Linked DNA regions of Homo sapiens: region 2 is linked to region 1. A link means that fine-mapping ties the variant in region 1 to the expression of a gene that starts in the linked region. Tissue or cell type: whole blood. Region 1 holds a variant in brackets; the other region holds the start of a gene. All regions are shown on one strand. Distances are between the middles of the regions.

Evidence for each region. PIP is the estimated chance that this variant, and not a neighbour inherited with it, causes the effect.
Region 2: RAP2C starts here. The variant in region 1 is fine-mapped to the expression of RAP2C in whole blood (TOPMed, PIP above 0.99). The same link has a PIP of 0.9 or more in atrial appendage, breast, gastroesophageal junction, left ventricle, lung and pancreas.

The regions. Positions count from the first base shown.
Region 1 is chrX:132,557,255-132,559,942 of GRCh38, forward strand. No RefSeq gene overlaps it. Among named protein-coding and RNA genes, the nearest start is that of MBNL3, 70 kb to the left of the region's middle. The variant C/T (reference allele first, on the strand shown) is at 1,055.
Region 2 is chrX:132,218,345-132,221,032 of GRCh38, forward strand. It overlaps RAP2C (RAP2C, member of RAS oncogene family), which reads right to left and starts at 1,103. Exons shown (of 6, transcript NM_001271186.2): 1 at 1,026-1,103. It overlaps RAP2C-AS1 (RAP2C antisense RNA 1), which reads left to right and starts at 163. Exons shown (of 3, transcript NR_110410.1): 1 at 163-493. RefSeq lists enhancers at 1,025-1,094, 1,425-1,474.

The DNA of each region.
Region 1 (2,688 bases):
TTATATCAGAAAGCCATGAACTGCTCAAAAAAAATAGTGGGGGCATGTCACAAGGACAGAAGAACCAGTTTGGAGGAGCTCCCATTGGCCAAATCTCAGACAATTTCAGTATTAAAATAATAAAGTAATAATTATAAATACATTTAGAAAAATGTAGAAAATCATAAGCTCATATCAATAAAAAATAAATAACCGTGGAGAAGTGCTTGCTTATAGTAAAATGCTGAATGCTGACTAGTAAGTGTGGAGGAAGTGCTATAGTTAAAAAGTCAGTATTTTGTAAGCATCAAAATAAAGATTGGATAAAATAAAAATCAGTAGATATTAAATCTAAGTAGAAATGTTGATGAAGAGGATGTTTAGATGGAATTAAAGCAATCTCACAGGCTGCTTATTAGTTGCAAGTGGAAAGACAGTACTTATGCAATGGAGAATTTGGACAATTATTTGACCAGGCGATCAAAATTAGCATCACGAATGAGGAGCACATACACCGCATGTGTCTTCAGATGTGATTCCTTGAGAAGATCAATACCGTATAACCTACCCTGAGAAAGCACAGCTTGTATCTAATCACGAAGAAATATCAGATAAACCCCCCAAAAGGGACATTGAAAATATCAACATCATGAAAAAGAAGAAACTTTATGGAATGTTTCAGAATAAAAGAGGTTAAAAAAACATGACAACTAAATGTAATACTTGACCCCAGGCTAAATTCTGTACTGGAGGGAAAAATGCCACAAAGGACATTATTAGGCCAACTATAAAAGGTATGATATGAATATACAGACAGTAGATTAGAAAAAACTAGTATATCAATGTAAACTTATGAAGTTGATAACTTCCACAAAGAAGTTATTCTTACAAAGTGTACACCTGAAGTATTTACAGGTAAAGACACATGATATATGCAATTTACCTCAAATAGTTCAGAAAAAGGGTTCAGAAAAATGCTCTAGTCCTAGCTACTCTGGACACTGAGGCAGGAGGATCCCTCGAGCCCAGGAGTTCCAGGCTGCAGTGAGCCATGATCGTGCAACTGCACTTCACC[C/T]TGGATGACAGAGGGAGACCTTGTTTCTAAAAATAAATAAAATAATTCAGAAAAACAGTTCTCAAGTAGTTCAGAAAAAGAGGAGATGAAAGAGAGATGGATGGGAGAGAAGTAACTGATGAAGCAAATGAATTAAATGATAGCAAGAAGTGAGGCTAGGTAAAGGTTATACAGGTGTACCTTACACTATTCTTATTTTTGCAACATTTCTGCACATTTTTAATGGTTTCCAAATAAAAAGGTAAAAAACTTTAAGGAGTAAGATATTTCTTTGCTACAATGCCAAAAGCACAATCCATAACATATTGATAAATTGGACTTCATCGAACATAAAAACTGCTTTTGAAAGACACTGTGAAGAGAATGAAAAGACAAGCGCTAGGCTAGGGGAAAAACATTTGCAAGTCATCTAAAACACTTGCATCCAAATAAAAGACTTATATCCAGAATATATAAAGAACTCATAAAACTAAATAATAAAACAAAAAGAAACAATAAAAATGGCGAAAGTATTTGAACGAGCTATGTCACCAAAAAAGGTATATACTCGGAAAATAAGCACATGAAAAATGACCAATCTCATTGGTCATTAGGACAATGCAAATTAAAACCACAATAAGATATCAATTCAAACCTACTGGGACGGTTCAAATTAAAAGACTGACCATATCAATTGTTGATGAGAATGTGGGAGAACTGGAACTCTTATGTACTGTCAGTTGGGATTTAAAAAGGTACCACTATTTTGGAAAATGTTTTGACAGTTACTTTTAAAGTCAAATCTGCACTTATCATATGACTTAATCATTACACTTCTAGGTATTTACCCAAGAGAAGTCAAAGCACATTTCCACACAAACCCTTCTACAAGAATGTTCACCACTCTGGGCAATATGGCTAGACTCCATCTCTACAATTTTTTTTTAATTTGAAAAATAAAATCAGCCAAGCATGGTGGCATGTGCCTGCAGTCCTAGCTACTCAAGAGGTCAAGGTGGGAGGATCCTTTGAGCCCAGGAGTTCAAGGCTGCTGTGAGTCATGATCATGCCACTGTACTCCAGCCTGTGCGACAAAGCAAGACCTTATCTCAAAAAAAAAAAAAGAATGTTCATAGCAGCTTTATTTTTATATCCAAAATCAAGAAACAACCCAAACCTCCACCGTGAGTAAATGGATAAACAAGTTTAGTGGAAGATTACTCAGCAACAAAAAGAAGTAGCTATTGATACATGCTGCAATTTAGATAATCTCAAATAAAAATGTATGCCAAGTGAAAGAAGTAGACAAATGAACGTACACACTGCATGGTTCAATTTATATAAAATTCTTTTTTTACTTTTATTTTAGGTTCAAGGGTACATGTGCAGTTTGCTATATAGGTAAATTTGTGTCATGAGTGTTTGTTGTACAGATTATTTTGTCACCCAGGTACTAAGCCTAGTACCCAGTAATTTTTTATGCTCTTCTCCATCCTCCCACCCGCCACCCTCAAGTAGGCCACAGTGTCTGTTCTTCCCTTCTTTGTGTCCATGAGTTCTCATCACTTAGCTCCCACTTATAAGTGAGAACATGCAGTATTTGGTTTTCTGTTCTTGCATTAGTTTGCTAAGGATAATGACCTCCAGCTCCATCC
Region 2 (2,688 bases), 340 kb before region 1:
CGACGTCAGTCCTTACCCGCCCGCGGCTGCCGCGGACCGTCCCACCCCCAAACCCGTAGAAGCCCCTCCGACCTGCAACCTCCAGCCGCCCGGCCCTAGGACTTGAGCGGCTCCCTGGCCGGTGCGGAACCTGCGGGCTAATAATCTAGCGACCGGGAGAACGCCAAACATCCCTGGACTAGAAGTTGCAGGGGAAATCAAACAGCCCAGAAAGTTTATTCTCCTTGCTGGTATTTCTTCCACTTGCTATTTTGCTGAGAGATGCATGCAAACTACCCTTAGACTTTCAGATGCAGTGCGTTTTACTTAGCCGTGCCTGACAAACACACAGAACTTTTACCGTCTGGTAGATCCGCCTTGACTTTACCAGCGAATACTAAAGTCACTTAAAAAAAAATCACAAGGCTCGAAAACAGCAGCATTAGAAGTAGACTTTATGGTACTCTGCTCAGCTATGTTCTCATTTGATTCCAACCACTACACGGCAGAAAAGGTAACCAATATTCAAGAAAGATTTGATTGGAAACGGTTTAGGCCTAAAGACTAATTTATTTTAATCGTTGATTATGTATAACAATTTGCTTGGCTGGCTCTTACATGCTGAAGTTTTGTTTTAAAGGCCATCCTATGTAGTCTTTGAAATTCAAAAGCAAGTAGTAACTCTGGTGTTAGATTCTAAGTTTCTATTTTTAGATAAAATTGTTACTTCCGACTATCTTTCCCTTTGCTAGCTTTCTATTTGTAAACTTTGTGTCGGATCCACAGAGCCCCAGGGCCAGGAGTCTAGGCTGTATTTTAGGTGTGTCACTTTCTTTTCAATTCAAGCATGTACCCAGAAACCTGCGAGACTCAGTGGCCAGCCTAGCAAAAATGACTCCAAATTCCCTTACTTACAAGCCCTAAATGGCCAAACTCTATAAAGAGATTTATTACTCAGCCTAAATTGTTGGACATTAGAACACAGGCGAATCATAGTAGTGTGAGGTCCCACTGTCCCTCCCTGAGTATTCCCCAATGTCACTTACAGTCTTCAAAGGAGAGTTTAGTTCAATTTCTCCTTGACCTCAGGCCGGTGCCATCTCTCCAGCGAAGTCCCCAGCTCTGGCTCCAGCTGGCCTGGGCCCTGTGTCGTATCAGAGGCACTGCCCTCTGCTGGAAGGGGTTTGGTCTGTGAGTTATGAGTTTCCCCACAGGTCACTGCTCCTTTCACACGTGCTGTTGCCTGATTTGGAGCTCTGCTGCTCATCTCCCTGCCTAGCTGTCTCCAGACTGTCTGGTGGGATTCACAGCCCTCCACCAGCCGTGCTTGTAACTGAGTCTGGAAATTCCTCTTCTGATCCAGCCAGTGTTGAGCAATCGTGGCAAGTCTTTGCTCTATTACTAAACTGTCAAAGCAAGGAGTTCTTTTTCAGGTCATCCCACCTGTTGGCAATTCTAATATCTCTGAATGTGTTGGTCATGCTTAGGAGAGAGTTCTTTGTTTCTCCACGCAGTGAAACATACTCCTCCCCTCAGTACAGCGTCCTGTGGGGTCACTCTCGTCAACTACAGTGGACAAATATTACACTCAGTCTAAAGATCCTTCTAAACTTTCTTAGGAAGGGTATTCATTACAGCATTGATTAGGAAATCAAACAATTGGAAGAAGCTTAAATGTCCTTCAGTAGGTGATTTTTAAAAGTTTCATAGCTCTCTATATCTATTATCTATCATCTATCTATCTATCTACCAACCTACCTACCTACCTATCTGTATTCACAGAATAGGATATTATGCAGCTACTTTAAAAGAGAAAAGCAGATTTGTAAGTGTTTATATAAAAAGATGGCCAAGATATATTGTAGGGCTGAAAAAGCAAGATACTGAACAAATGTCTAGTTGCTACTGTTTATGTAAAACGCAGGTGTGTAATAGTTACATAGCCATTCAAATCTGAAACAAAGTAATTATGGGTGAGGACTATTATGAAATGGCTTTTATTTCTCCATATTTTAATTTATAAACAATAATTGGGAAAAAGGAAGTAAATATAACTTTATAATATTTTTAAAGGAGGAACAAAAGAAAGTTGTTGATCTTGGTTTTGTAAAAAAAAAAAAAAAAAATCCTGACTGTCTAGGGGTCAGTGGACAGGTCCGCCCAATTTAAACAAATTCCCTACCCTTGCTTGCCCTCCCCAAACATCTCTATACTTAGAAAAGTATTTTCACATACATTATCTCATTAGACTCCTGTTGTTTGCTAGTGTACTCTCATTAAGCAATGAGGGTATAAAGAGCAAGCAGAAGAGTGCGGCCTGGCAGTTGAGAGCTAAGGCTCTGAAATGAGACAGAGGTGCATTAAAATTGCAGCTCCGCCACATTCTAGCTCTGTGTCCCCAAGCAAGTGATTTCACTTGTCTGAGCCTCTAACTCCTCACTTGTAAAAAGGAGATAAGAAGTTAACGTGAAAATGTAATGAGGTATTACAGGTAAAGTGCTTAGCACAGTCCCTTGCACATTATAAAGCCTCAATAAATGCTATTTGGTTTTTATTTAAAAGATTTAATGAATTGTTAATTTTTAAAAAATAGCAAACATGGGGGTAACAAAATTTTAAAAGCTCAAATATCTGCAAGTGGCACGAAAATAATAATTCAGTTACTCTTCACAAAGATATTTATTGTTAAAAGCTTCTTATGTTTTTCAG